Linked DNA regions of Homo sapiens: region 1 is linked to region 2. The links come from fine-mapping of genetic effects on gene expression. A gene starts in region 2. The other region holds a variant in brackets. All regions are shown on one strand. Distances are between the middles of the regions.

Evidence for each region. PIP is the estimated chance that this variant, and not a neighbour inherited with it, causes the effect.
Region 1: its variant is the best candidate, but not a certain one, in a credible set for the expression of UNC13D in whole blood (INTERVAL, PIP 0.67).

The regions. Positions count from the first base shown.
Region 1 is chr17:75,798,946-75,803,323 of GRCh38, forward strand. The region is part of intron 1 of UNK (unk zinc finger); the gene reads left to right. Among named protein-coding and RNA genes, the nearest start is that of UNK, 16 kb to the left of the region's middle. The variant C/T (reference allele first, on the strand shown) is at 2,209.
Region 2 is chr17:75,842,252-75,846,605 of GRCh38, forward strand. It overlaps UNC13D (unc-13 homolog D), which reads right to left and starts at 2,153. Exons shown (of 32, transcript NM_199242.3): 1 at 1,970-2,153; 2 at 1,233-1,268; 3 at 908-1,015; 4 at 763-822; 5 at 606-672; 6 at 182-362. The coding sequence starts at 2,086. It overlaps WBP2 (WW domain binding protein 2), which reads right to left. Exons shown (of 8, transcript NM_012478.4): 8 at 3,448-4,354. RefSeq lists silencers at 1,423-1,482, 2,333-2,392, 2,403-2,562 and enhancers at 1,670-2,374, 2,793-2,872, 3,003-3,092.

The DNA.
Region 1 (4,378 bases), 43 kb before region 2:
AGTCCCAGCTACTCAGAGGCTGAGGCAGGAGAATGGTGCAAACCCAGGAGGCGGAGCTTGCAGTGAGCCGAGATCGGGCCACTGGACTCCAGTCTGGGCGATAGTGCGAGACTCCATCTCAAAAACAAAAAAAAAAAAGAGGGTTGCTGGAGGTCAGGAGTTTGAGAGCAGCCTGGGCAACATGGCGAAACCTCATCTCTACAAAAAAATACAAAAATTAGCTGGGTGGGGTGGCAGGTGCCTGTAGTCCCAACTACTCGGGAGGCTGAGGTGGGAGGATTGCTTGAGCCTGGGAGGCTGCAGTGACCTGTAATTGCACTACTGCACTTCAGCCTGGGTGACAGAATGAGACCCTTTTTCAAAAAAGTTAATCTGTAATGGTCTCTGCACATTCCCAGCACCAATGACAAAAGAGCCAGATGCCAGCAACCGACTCTGTGTGTGAGGCGGAAGATCTCAATTTTAGTGTTCAGGTGAGGAACAAAGCTGAGCAGACGTGATGTGGAAGAGAGAGCTTACTGAGTTAATTGCCAGGAGATGTATCTAAGTCAGAGGTTGGAGTTGCTCCTCTGTGTTTTGCTGGGTTCGTGCAGAGCTGCTTTTGTACCAGGTTTCTACCACTTGGGGTGCTTTTTGCTTTTCTTTTCACTTCCCACATCTCAAGCACCTGCTGTGGGTCAGCTCTGTGCAGGGGTACAAAGATGATCGATGTGGCAGTGTACAAAACAGTCAGAATCCACTGTGGTGGCTGTACCAGCAGTATTCACATAGTGCAGTAGGAACATGGAAGCGGGGGCAGGCAGGGCCAGGGAACCCTCAGGGTGATCTAGACCCAGGGGACAACATGATCAAAAGTATGGAAATGTAAGGCTGTGATGTGATGGGGCATACCAACTGTTTAGCGCAGAGGTCACCTGTAATCCCAGCACTTAGGGAGCAGAGGCCAGAGGATAGCTAGAGCCCAGGAGTTTGAGACCTGCTCAGGCAATACAGCGAGCCCCCTTTCTCCACAAAAAGGGGAAAAAAAAGACAAAAAAACCCAAGTGTAGAGCAGAGGTCAGCAAACCGGCTTGCATGCCAAATCCAGCCTGCTGCCTGCTTTTTTAAGGCCCACAAGGTAAGAATTGTTTTCACTTTCTTTTGAGACAGGTCTCAGTCTATCCTCCTGGCTGGAGTGCAGTGGCACAATCTTGGCTCACTGCAGTCTCGACCTCCCAGGCTCAAAGAATCCTCCTGCCTCAGCCTCCTGAGTAGCTGGGACTATAGGTGTGCACCACCACACCCGGCTAATTCTTGTATTTTTTTGGTAGAGACAGCGTTTTGCCACATTGCCCAGGCTGGTCTCCAATTCCTGAGCTCAAGCGATCCACCCGCCTTGGCCTCTCAGAGTGCTGGGATTACAGGCATGAGCCACTGTGCCCTCCCTTCACATTTTTTCAATGGTTGAAAAGATATTTCGTGATGTGACGATTGTATGAATTTCAAAGAGTCCCTAAATAAAGCTTCCTTTGGGCTGGGCGCGGTGGCTCATGCCTGTAATCCCAGCACTTTGGGAGGCCGAGGCGGGCGGATCATGAGGTCAGGAGATTGAGACCATCCTGGCTAATAAAGTGAAACCCCGCCTCTCCTAAAAATAAAAAAATTAGCTGGGCATGGTGGCGGGCGCCTGTAATCCCAGCTACTCGGGAGGCTGAGGCAGGAGAATGGCATGAACCCAGGAGGCAGAGCTTGCAGTGAGCTGAGATCGCGCCACTGCACTCCAGCCTGGGTGACAGAGCGAGACTCTGTCTCAAAAAATAAAAAATAAATAAAATAACGCTTCCTTTGAACCTGCACTCATTCGTTTCTCTGTTGTCTTGGCTGCTTGTGCACTTCAACTACAGACTCAAGTAGTTGCAACAGGAGACTGACTATATGTGATGCTCATTGCTTCTCATTGCTGCACGTGTCAGCATACCACATTTTTTGTTTTTTTTGAGACGGAGTGTCACTCTGTCGCCCAGGCTGGAGTGCAGTGGCGTGATCTGGGCTCACTGCAAGCTCTGTCTCCCGGGTTCATACCATTCTCCTGCCTCAGCCTCCTGAGTAGCTGGGACTACAGGCGCCAGCCACCACGCCCGGCTAATTTTTTGTATTTTTAGTAGAGACGGGGTTTCACCATGTTAGCCAGGATGGTCTCGATCTCCTGACCTCATGATCCGCCCGCCT[C/T]GACCTCCCAAAGTGCTGGGATTACCGGTGTGAGCCACTGCACCCAGCCAGCATACCATGTTTTATACGTTCTTCATCACCAGTGCATACCTCTTATGTCAAAAGAAGAGAGGAAGAGAAAAATGCACTTCAAGTATTTTACTTTTAAGGCTCGGTGGCATGTGGATTATTTGTTAACACATTTGGTGGCAAAGCACCCAATAATAAAGATAGCTGTGACTGGGCATGGTGGCTTATGCTTGTAATCCCAGCACTTTGGGAGACCGAGGCAGGAGGACACCTTGAGCCCAGGAGTCAAGATTGCAATGAGCTGTGATTACACTACTGCACTCCAGCCTGGTAACGGAGTGAGACCCTGTCTCTTTATTTAAATAAAGAAGGAAATATTCCTTTAAAATTTATTTTTCCTTTTTTTTTTGAGATCACTCTGTCGCCCAGGCTGGAGTGAAGTGGCATGATCTCTGCTCATTGCAGCCTCCACCTCCTGGGCTCAAGCGATTCTCCTGCCTCAGCCTCCTGAGTAGCTGGGACTACAGGCGCCCGCCACCACACCTGGCTAATTTGTATTTTTAGTAGAGACGGGGTTTCACCATATTGGCCAGGTTGGTCTTGAACTACTGACCTTGTGATCCACCCGTCTCAGCCTCGCAAAGTGTTGGGATTACAGGTGTGAGCCACTGCACCCGGCTCCCCCCAGCCTTTTTTTTTTTTTTGGAGACAGAGTCTTGCTCTGATGCCCAGGCTGGAGTACAGTGGTGCGCTCAGCTCATTGCAACCTCAACTTCCCTGGTTCAAGTGATTCTTGTGCCTCAGCCACCCAAGTAGTTGGGATTATAGGTGTGAGCCACCACGCCTGGGTAATTTTTTGTATTTTTAGTAGAGATGGGATTCTCCATGTTGGCCAGGCTGGCGTCAAACTCCTGACCCTAAGTGATTTGCCCGCCTTGGCCTCCCAAAGGGCTGGGATTACAGGAGTGAGCCACTGCGCCTGACCTAAAAATTTTTTTCTGACCATTGCTTGCTTTTCTGGGAATCTTGTGATAAGTGCTTTGTCTGATAATGCTGATGGATTTTTTCAGCACAGATGTCTTTTTTTTTTTTTTTTTTTTTTTTTTTTTTTTTTGAGACAGGGTCTCGCTCTGTCACCCAGGCTGGCATGCAGTGGTGCAACCGTAGCTCACTGCAACCTCAAACTCTTGGGTTTAGTGATCCTTTCACTTCAGCCTCCCAAGTAGCTGGGACTACAGGTGCATGCCTGGCTTAGTTTTTTAAAAAAATGTTTTAAAACTGTTTTAGTGATGGGGTCTTGCTATGTTGCCCTCAAACTCCTAGGCTCAGGTGATCCTCCCACCTCCGCCTCCTGTGTTGCTGGGATTACGGGGATGAGCCACTGCATGCAGCTAGGAATATTTCCTTACAGCAGAATTTCTTCACAAGAATTAAAACTACATTTTTGTAGTTTCAGTTGCAGGCTACAACTGAAGCAGGTTTCTGAGTGGCTCATTTGTTAGCTAGGCAAGGAAAGCCATTTACTGATGTTGAGTTAATTAAATTGTGTTTGACTGCAGCAGCTGGAGAAGTGTGTCCAGATAAAACACATTTTTGTTTGAGAGTGTTAGCTTTTCAGCAGGAACAGTGTCTCAAAATGTTGAGGACATTAGGAGCAATGTCAGTAGTCAATTAAAAAAGAAGGCCGGGCACCATGGCCCACACCTGTAATCCCAGCACTTTGAGAGGCCAAGGTGGGCGGATCACGAGGTCAGGAGATTGAGACCACCCTGGCCAACATGGTGAAACCTCGTCTCTACTAAAAATACAAAAATTACAGGCCGGACGCGGTGGCTCACACCTGTAATCCCAGCACTTTGAGAGGCCAAGGTGGGCGGATCACGAGGTCAGGAGATTGAGACCACCCTGGCCAACATGGTGAAACCTCGTCTCTACTAAAAATACAAAAATTACAGGCCGGACGCGGTGGCTCACACCTGTAATCCCAGCACTTTGGGAGGCCAAGGCGGGCACATCATGAGGTCAGGAGATCAAGACCATCGATCTCCCAACACGGTGAAACCCCGTCTCTACTAAAAAATACAAAAAAATTTAGCTGGGCATTGTGGCAGGCACCTGTAGTCCCAGCTACTTGGGAGCCTGAGGCAGAAGAATCACTTGA
Region 2 (4,354 bases):
TCTGTCCCATCTGACCTACTGTCCACCTAACGTGCCTGGAGATGGGCTTCTCCTCTAGTCTTTGCCCAGGGCCAAACCCCCTCCCCTGAGCCAGGACGACCTACTCATCTCATTGTCTGGGGCAGACCCTGCTACCCAGGAAAGACCTGGATAGAGTGGGGGCTGGAGCACGGCCACGTACAGGATGAAGGTCTCGTCCCAGACGGGGTTGAGTGTCTGGGTGATGACCTGCGTGCGGTGGGTCTCCTCCTCGGGGATGGTGTGCCTCACCACAGCCTTCTGCCGATGCCGGGACCCGGGGCTGCCCCCTGGCACACCTACCCCCTGCTCAATGCCCAGCAGGCAGTAGGGGTCGCTGAACCCTGTGGAGGAGTGGGGAAGACGAGGCAGCCAGGGAGTCGGCTGGGTCCCTGGGAGAGGCCCTCATCACCCCCGCCCGGGGCTGAGCCTCCTCCGGGGGAGAGGGAAGGGGACCAGCAGCATGGGGGGCCAGCGCTACAGGGCTTCTTGGAAGTGGGTGCTCCCGCCAAGAGTCCTGGGCCAGGCTGTGATGGGAGAGGAAGGAGCCAGGAAGAAGCCCCTTGGGGACCCCACCCCATGCTCACCACTGACATCTTTGCCCAGAATGCCCTTGGCCTGTTTCACTGTTGCCTTCAGACAAAATATTGGCTTCTGGAGGGACAGGAGGGATGGCCTGAGTCCCTGAGGGGGCTGGGCTTCCCAGGCCCCTCCTTGCCCAGGGGGACCCTGGCCCCAGGTTACCTCAAGCTCCCTGACCCGCTGCAGTGTCTGCTGGTGCTCCTCGGGCTCCACGTGGAAGGCCTGGTGGGGAGGCAGGCGGGTGGGTGGCTGGGGGCACCAGACAGGGCAGCTGCAGGAAGGGGGGTGGGGTGGGAGCCGGGCTCACCTCCTGCAGGTATCGCAGCAGCTCAGAGGCCTCCGTCACATGGTTGGGCTCAGGATGACCCAGGCGGTGCAAGACAGTGTAGAGTGCGTCCTCGTAGAGCAGGGCCCGCTAAGACACACGGGGTCACCTTGGGGACCCCACCAGCCACCCCTGGCACCAACACCTCTCGCCATGGGCAGGACAAGGGCGGCTTGTGCAGCGGAGGGAGTTGAGACCCAGGAGTCCCCTCCCCACCGCAAGTTGCTTGCTGCCATCAGCGTCGGCCGGCAGGAGGACACACAGCCGCCCTCCCCACCTCTCTGCACCCCAGCACTCTGACTCTTACCTGCTCGGGGGAGAAGTGGTGGGATGGAGGCTGGATCTGCAGAGCAAGGTGGAAAGGCAGTGTCCCGGGAGGCCCAGAGCAGGCTCAGATGGACAGGAATGGCTCCTCTGAGGCCTGATCCAGGCCAAGGGTATGGGGGCCCCAGCACCCCGGCCTCCAGCCCCAGTGATGCCCCGCACCTGTTCCCCCAGCAGGCCTCCTGGAGGTCCGTCCCTGGGCCCGCCGTGGCTGAGGTCCATGGGTGCCCAGCAGCGCGAGCCCTCCGCACCCGCACCCCACCTCCCTCCCTTCCCCAGAGGAAACAGCTCTGCTTATCAGTGGCGGCTGCTCCTCACCCAGCAGCGGAAGTGAGGCTCGGCAGCGGAGGTGAGGGGGGTGCCACGTCGGCCTGGGGGTCTGCTGCTCCCCGAACAGCTCACCCCACAGCAGGGACACCCCCACCTAATGGAGTCGGCTCTTCTGAAGCTGGAGGAGTAGGGGATGGGGTCAGGCCAACCGGGAGGGAGGGGTTCTGAGAGCCTCAGACCACAGGGCCTGAGGCCCACAGTGGCCCAGAGTCCATCTGGCAGCCCCTGCTCTGCTGGCCCAGGGGGCTCTCCCCAGGGTGGAGTAGGCAGGGGAGGGTCGCTGGTCCCCAGTCCCAGCCTTCGAGAGGTGGGGCCAGACAGCAGGGCACCCGTACCCGAGACCACAGTGCTCCCCAAGGCCAGCTCTCTCCCCAGTGAGGTCACTCCTACCTCCGGGGCCATTTGGGGCGGGGGATCCTGTAGATCTCTGACTCTGCGGCGCCTTATCTTGATGGCCTGGCGCAAGAAGGGAGGGCGCTGCTGCGGATGGGAGAGGAGTGTCGCCATGGTGGCCTTCTCTGCCCTTCCCTGTCCGCTGGTGCTGGGTGAAGACAGCGAAGCCACAGGATTATGCAAAGAGCCTGGGGCTGCCACCCTCTGTCAGGGGAAGTTTTAGGGAGGGTGGCTGGGAGGGACGGAAGGGTGAGGGTTTCACCGCTTCGGAGAGGCAGTCTCCCAGGCCCCCTGCACCTTCCCCAGCTGGGATCCCTACAGGACCCTCCTCTGGCTGGAGCAGAAGGTGGACCCCGTGGGCAGGCCTGGCCCCGCCCCACCCTCCTACAGAGGCCCTGGGAAGGGGACAACGCTCTCAGCAGGGGGCGGGGGGGCCCAGAACAGGCGGGCAGCATCCTGCCCCATCCATGTGCTGTGCCCAGGCTGGGCTGAACCCTGAGAGAAGCTGACCTGGGCCCGGGGGGGTTCTCACCCCACTTCCTCGAGTGCGTCCAGACGTGGGGCGGGGCGGGGTGGGGTGGGGTGTGGTGGCGCCCAGGGTGGGGGCTCCCAAGAGGCGTCTCCCTGGAGGACAGCCAGTTGCTCAGCCTGCCTGGCCCCACAGGTGACATTCCTTGGAGATGACGGGGCCAAGCTGTGCTGGGCAGGGACAGCCCTGTGCCCCTGCCCCCACCTTGGCAGTCAGGACAGTGCTCCCTTCAGACACCCTTGAAGGGGGCTTAGCCAAGTCCCAGAGAGCTCTGGGCCAGGCTGGCCAGGAGGAGGAGGCAGAGGGGCTGCTGCCCGATCTCTCCTGAGGACAGACTTGGCTCCCGGGGGACAGGAAAATGCGCCTCAGCATGGGGCTTTCCTAGAGCTCTGTGGCCTGCCCACCCTGTGCCCAGTGCTGGGCTGGGGGACTTGCGGGCGTGTGGGCCTGGTCACGGCCTTTGGCCATTTCCCACCCTCCTGTCCCTTCAAGTTCACAGCAGGGCACGTGACGTGGGTGGTGGCAAGCCGGCTTGGCTACCTCAGTGTCCCTGTCACAGGTCCTGACGTGCTCCAGGGCTGACTCGGCCTCCTCCCTCCAGCAACCAGGACTTAGGCCAGGGCTGCCATTCCTCGAGGAGCCAGCAGGGGACAAGGTGGCAGCCCCAACTCCTCCCTTCAAGGCCAACTCTGGGCCACATCCACCTCTGTCCCAGCCAGGCCCTGGGGACTCAGTGGGGGAGGGACACAGCTGCTGAGCGACAACCGTTAAGAACCAGCTCCAGAGGCCAGAGCTGTCTTGGGGACCAGACAGGCTGGCTGGGCCGTGAGAATGGGGATCCTCCCATGGGAGGGAACCGTCCCAGAAGTCTCCAGGGCCCTCAGCGGCCAGACGGCTCTCCTTCCGGAAGAGACCCCCGGGTCACCACACGCAGAGCCAGAAAGGGTCCAGTTATTTCATTTTTACTATTTCACATTTTCAGCAAACAAATCGAGGTGCAAACAGGGTTTATTTCACATTAATATATTAACTGGATTTTTTGTCAAATAAATAGGGAATTCTCTTTAAATAACCATCTCCTCACTTCATGGCCAGTCCAGGGACAAACAAGAGTGAATGTTAGCGCATCCAGGGGCACAAAGCTTAAGGGGAAGAAGCAGGCTGGGGGGCTGGTGGCAGGTCCCGGCCAGCACACAGGGTCAGGGGCCCTTGTTCCCGGCCCCACCCAGCAGCCACCAAGTGGACAGACATGCATTCTCTGGTTCCAGTCAGGAAGCTCCTTCTAGAAGGAAGTGAGAGGTGAGGGAAAGCAAATTCCAGAAACACCAGCAAAAGGCAGAAGGGCTTCCTCCCAGCCTCGGCGGCCCTGCCCCGACGCCACCCAAGCCCTGGAAGCTCATTTTACAGCTTCAAAAGTCACACAGGGTGGCAACAACATGACCCAGGACAGGGAAGGGAAGGAAGGGTGGCGGGGGCTGCAGCTGGACCCTGGCTGAGTGGAATGCGGGCGCGGTGGCCTTCTGAGACCAGCACAGACCAGCAGAGGGAATGTGAGCAGGGTCTGGCAGGGCCCGGGAAGACACCTGGCTGGTCTGAAGTGGCTCATGAGGCTGAGTGTAGCAGTGGGTGCCAGACTGAGGGAGCTGGACTGCGGTGGAGGAGGTGGCCAGAGAGTCCCTTCGAGGGGAGAAGCTGAGAGTGAAACAGGAACAGGGGATGCTCCGTGCTCCCAGAAGAGCCCCAGACGGTGAGGGAGGTACGCTGGGCAGCACTGTGGGCTCCGGGCTGGCATGGGAAGCTGGGCGGCACCTCTCCCGAGGCCGGGGGCCCTAATGTCCCACAATGCTAGTTCC